2 separate regions of the Homo sapiens genome follow, and region 2 is linked to region 1. Evidence: fine-mapped expression QTL. A gene starts in region 1. The other region holds a variant in brackets. All regions are shown on one strand. Distances are from middle to middle. Region 1 holds the start of PLCB4 (phospholipase C beta 4). Region 2 has its middle 34 kb from the start of PLCB4.

Region 1 (2,912 bases):
ATGCAAGACTGTCCTATGAAAAACAGCATTCTGGATTACATAACACAGATAGTGAGGGATTACACCACATGCCCCTGCTGAGCTAGACTTTTGATCTTCTGTATGATTCTATAACTGAGGCCACTCAAATTTGAAGAGTATAAAATATGAGGGTCTCAGTTCAACCACACATTTCTGAAAACAGCCGTCTTGAAAACAATAAAAGAATAAAGTTAAAATTTTACCTTCCCCCGCAACACACACACAATTTTTCTATTCTGAAAAACACAGTTGTTCAGATACTTTCTTAACCTCCTTGGAGCCTCCCCAGGTAAAGTCACCAGTTGCTTTTCCTGGTCATGTTTACATTATAAATCTGATTTCTCTTTAAGGGGAAATTCAATATCATTTTAAAATGATACATAGCTGCCTATGTTTGAATAACGTTATTTCCAGACAAAAAGAATTATTAAACAGCTATCTCCACATACCTATAACTTAAATATATAGACCACTAAGTATTACGTATATGGAAAAAAAAACACCTTTCCTGAATATTCTGGCCAAAATTAAATTTCAAATACATGTTTTAGAACAATAGCTAGAATCACTACAGAAGTTAAGAGGAAAAAAAGTTGGAAGAGTAGGGTCATCTTTCAGATATATCCATATTTATGGAAACTATAGTGGGCAGTTGTATTTCTCTCTAGGAAAATGCTAGTTTTATGATTCTAGATAAAGTTGCACTTAAACACACTTGGAAATTAGAGAATTCCATATTTCCATACTTCGATTCAGTACCATATACGAAGTCTACACTCAGAAGTATTGTACTATACAGAGTCTAATTGGTTAAAGCAAAAGCAACTTTAAAATTCTGAAAATAAGGATTTCCTTCACTAACAGGCTTTTAGGAGGCCCGAACCCTGCCCCCAATGAGTGCTAAGCCTGTCAGTGTTGTTTTAAGTGGAAACGGTCAATCATTTCTATGATTTCCCCAGAAGAGGCAAGAAGATCCACACGCATACACATTTACATGCGTTGCACGGTGCCAACTATTTCCAACCAAAATAATCATATACACGTCGAGCCGAGCTATTTCTAGCCCAGAAGAGGGTGAACGTCTGGAGAGAGTCTGAGGAAACCCAGCAGGCGATGACTGCAGGGGAAGGGGGATGGCGTCTGGGTCCCCTGCCTCCCGCGCGCACAGGGCGCCTGGCACCCGGCACCTGCACGGGGTCCCCGCTGGGCATCCGGGTGCGCGCGCGCGCGCGTCCGGGACGCACCCGCGGAAAGCAAACAAGCCCTGAGGGCCAAGGCGGGCGGGAGCATCCTCGGGCGGGACCCGAAATGCCTTTTCCTACCTGTCACTTTGCCTGGAGCTGCTGCCGGGGATGCGGCGACGGCCGCTGCCTGGAGACCCAGTGTGTACGCGCGTGTGTGTGCGCGCCCGTGTGTGCGTGTGCGTGTGTGTGTCTGTGTGTGAGAGATCTTGTTGGCGGTGCAGCTCACTTACTGCTCCCGGCGCGGCGCCACCACCCCCTCCTCGCCATAAAGAGCCGCCGCCAAGCCCCCTCCCGGCGCACCCCAGTCCCGCCCTCCCGCCTGCCTCCGCACCCCCTCCCTGGCCTCCCCGCCTCCCCGTCTCCGCGCCGCGCGGTCCTTACCTCAGTTGAGGGCGGGGGTCTCCGCCGTGGCTCCCCAGCGAGCCCACGGGGCAGCGCCGACCCGCCCGCCCACCGCCGGGCCCTGCGCGTCCCCCGCTCCGGGCCCCGCCGCCCCTCAGCGGCCAGCCGCTTCCTCCTCCCCTGCCCCCGAGCCTCCCTCCTCGTTCTCGCCTCCCGGCTCCAGAGCCCGAGCTGTCGCCTCGCAGCCCCAACCTGCCCAGGCTACGGAGCATGCCCAGTGCGGCGCGCCGGGCTGGGCTGGGGGTGGGCAGGGGCCGGGCCGGCCGCCCAGTTGCCGCGAGCCCGCAGGGCGAGGAGTGGGCGCCGACTGGGTCGGGGGCGCAGCCTCGCGAGCCGGGGGCCGAGCAGCCGAGGCAGGTGGTGGGCAGCGCCAAGAGGAGGTGGGTGGGGCATCCGGGGAAGCCGGCCCGCGGCGCGCTCCTCTGGGGTCTCCCTGGCGGCTCCCCGCGGCATGTGCCCCATGCCCAAGGGTCGGGGGCGCACGGGATGGCGCTGGGCGCAGAACCCAGGGAGCGGGGGCAGAAAAGCGGCACCCTCCTCGGATGGGAGACCCGCAGCCCGCCGTGGGCCGTGTGGAGGGGCTCAGGACTGGCCAGAACGGGGCCCCCAAAGCCGTTGGCTGGGTGGGGGACGTGCTTATTTGTTTATATTCGGTTTCATAAACCCATACAGCGCCTACAATGCGTCCTGCAGTGTTCTAAACGCTTTTTATTCATTTAATCCCTAAAACAATCTTCCAAAGAGTACTACTGCCTCTTTTTATTTCGCGGGTCTTACACAGAGCCACAGAGATTAAGTGGTTCCAAAAAGTCTTCCCACAAGTGCAACCTCAGACATGCAAATCCCCCAGACTTTGGTCCCTGGGATGCTGGGGTGCTGCTCCAGCCAGTTCCTGGCTTTTCCCGGCCCTACAACGGCCCCCAGGTGCCTCCGAGTCACACTCACACCCAGGCCCTAATGGTGTTCGGTCTGGCATCACCCTTGTGTGGACCCTCACAACGTGCTGCTCCCGAACTCCGGAGGGCTCCCTCCTCCCCACTCCGCCTCCTCCTTCTCCCGGCCGGCGGCCACCAAAACCCGGAGACGTGGCACCTGCGCATTGGGGACTGGGGCCATGCTCGCAGCTGCACTAGGCATGCTCAGCCGCCTGAGCCGGTCCGGCTGGCCAGGAGGAAAGAAAGGGCCAGACGGGGCGTGAAGTGTAAGAAATGGAGGGGGAATGTGTGTGCAAACAATAGTCCAGGC
Region 2 (2,912 bases), 34 kb after region 1:
CACTTTGGGAGGCCAAGGCAGGCAGATCACCTGAGGTTGGGAGTTCAAGACCAGCCTGACCAAAATGGTGAAACCCCGTCTCTACTAAAAATACAAAATTAGCCAGGTGTGGTGGTGCACGCCTGTAATCCCAGCTACTTGGGAGGCTGAGGCAGGAGAATCGCTTAACTCGGGAGGCAGAGGTTGCAGTGAGCTGAGATTGCACCATCACACTCCAGCCTGGGTAACAAGAGTGAAACTCTGTCTCAAAAAAAAAAAAAAAAAAGATGCCAAATTGCCCAGCCCATGTGTCCAAAATGCCAGTTCCCTGATTAATCACTACTAGGAATATGCGGGAGGGACCTCTTGCCCCTGCTTGTTGGGAAAAGGGGAAGTTCAGACACAAGTAGAAGTTATACACACTAATGACATATTCTTTTTATGAGTTACAACACAGAATGACATCCTCTTATGGAGAGTGGTCTCCCACCTTGTATTGACCTTGAAAACTCATGGAAAAATAAGATAGGGAGCCATGCCAGTACCTCTTGTCTCCAGCTGGCCCCACCTGCCTTGAGATCATAGCGCCTTTTATCTAGAACCTTACCCTGACTGGGACCTTAGTGCATTATGACTATATAATAAGTACACCAGCAGCTATACCTACCACCACCACATTCCTACTATCTGATTGGCCCAGGAAAAGACCTGCCTCCCCTCTTCCCATACAATCAAAGCCTTCTCTGTTTATGAATATATTGTTACACTCATGCAAATCTGGGCTTCCCTTCAATTTACCCCTTTCCCTGTCCCCTTTGCTTCCACAATCTCCATAGTCACTTGGGGTGAATTAATCTCTCCTCATCCTTCTGTTCTGCTCTAGGCTGTTGTGCCAGCCCTGCTGTGCACCAGGGGGATTTGCTTATTTATTTATTTATTTTTATTTTTATTTTTAGAGACAGTGTCTCACTCTGATGTCCAGGCTGGAGTGCAGTGGCGTGATCTGCAGCCTCAAACTCCTGGGCTCAAGTGGTCCTCCTGCTTCAGCCTCCCAAGTAGCTAGCTGGGACTATAGGTATGTGTCACCACGTCTGGCTGATTTTGAAATTTTTTGTAGAGACAGCATCTCGCTATGTTTCCCAGGCTGGTCTCCAACTACTGGCCTGAAGTAATTCTCCCCAGAGGGCTAGGATTACAGGCATGAGTCACCAAGCCCAGCCAAGCAGGGGGCATTTAAAGGGCTCTAAGGCTGTAGCTAAGATATCCTCACCAGTGCATTTATTGGTGTGCATCCTGAGGGGAAAATTTTGAAAAATGCTTTAGGGACACATGGATGAAAGATACACAAACTCTTCTCAAATAAGACAGGCTTGCAAAAG[G/A]CTAACTACTATAAAGCAGAACATTGTGAGGGTCAAAGCAGAATGCTTAAAATCTGGGGGTGTGTGGGAGATAGAGGTGAGTATTCAGGAGGGTTTTACAGAAACCTTTAAGCAGAGCCAAGTTTGTTTTTGTATTTTTTTTTTTTTTTTGAGACAACCTATGTCACACAGGCTGACATAATCATGGCTCACTGTAGCCTCAACCTCCCGAGCTCAACTGATCCTCCCACCTTAGCGTCCTGATTAGCTGGGACTACAGGTGCACACCACCATGCCTGGCTAATTTTTGTATTGTTTGTAGAGATGGGGTTTTGCCATGTTGGCCAGGCTGGTCTCAAACTCCTGGGCTCAAAGTGATCCACCCACCTCAGCCTCCCAAAGTGTTGGGATTACAGCCATGAGCCACCATGCCCAGCCGCCAAGTTCTTCAAAAGCATTTTTAGTAGGGATGTAAATGCTAAAACTGACTATTCTATACAGGAAAGGCTAGAGCTAACTCTAGCTAACTCTCACCATGAGAGATAGAATGCTGAGAGTAGTTTCAGTAGGAATAAAAATGAAAAGATGAATATAGAGTATGAAGGCGCTAATGATGATGCCTTAGCTAGGATTCTGTAGAGGCGAAATCTGAGATGTTCTCAGGAACAACTCAGATAGCACCAGAAAGAAACCAGATAGGATCACTTTCAGCTAAAGGGTAGCCTCAGCCTGTTCCTGCAGGGAGCTCTGGAGCAAGAGCAGCACCACAGAGCTGTCTTCCCTTAAAGCAAGGGGGCTGGGCTTTTAAAAATTCACCATATTGGCTACTAACTGGGGGCTCTTTGTAGGAGAAGCCACCATTTCCCAGGGCATTGTGGGTGAGGCGGCTCCCACAGCCAAGGACAGCTCTCCAGAGAAGGATACATCTATGAACTATGAACAGCCAACATTTACATCAACTGGGTGTCTGGGTGAGACACCAAAATTATCAATGGCAGAAAAATTTTTATAAGACTTAATGACACAGTAGATGGTGATTTCTTAAAATGGAGTTTCTTATGTTTCCATTTTCTGTTTTGATTTATCTGTACTTCAAATGCATGTGTTTTTAAACCATAAAGCAATGTACAAAAAGCAAAGTATGAGAAAGATTTACTGCTTCATACTGAAAGAAATCTCTCTTCCCTCTCTCTTTCTACTCTAGCAGAGATATAGAAGAATGTTTAGGAATTAATGCTAAGCTGCATCAGTAAAGAAGTCAAGCAGTTGACCAAGGTTATCTATGTCAGGACTCAACTCAAATTTGTTTGAGCATAGAGGGACCTTATTGGCTTGGGTCACTACAAAGGGTGAGTTTGGACCTAATGTATGAGATGGCTGATTCAGGACTCAAAATGAGGTGATCATTCTACCCAGCAATCCCATTACTGTGTATATACCCAAAGGAATATAAATTGTTCTGTTATAAAGACACATGCACGCATATGTTCATTGCAGCACTATTCACAATAGCAAAGACATGGAATCAACCTAAATGCCCATCAATGATAGACTGGACAAAGAAAATGTAGTACA

The links. PIP is the estimated chance that this variant, and not a neighbour inherited with it, causes the effect.
Region 2: its variant is fine-mapped to the expression of PLCB4 in fibroblasts (GTEx, PIP above 0.99).

Annotation. Positions count from the first base shown.
Region 1 is chr20:9,067,638-9,070,549 of GRCh38, reverse strand. It overlaps PLCB4 (phospholipase C beta 4), which reads right to left and starts at 1,463. Exons shown (of 40, transcript NM_001377142.1): 1 at 1,344-1,463.
Region 2 is chr20:9,033,573-9,036,484 of GRCh38, reverse strand. No RefSeq gene overlaps it. Among named protein-coding and RNA genes, the nearest start is that of PLCB4, 34 kb to the left of the region's middle. The variant G/A (reference allele first, on the strand shown) is at 1,359.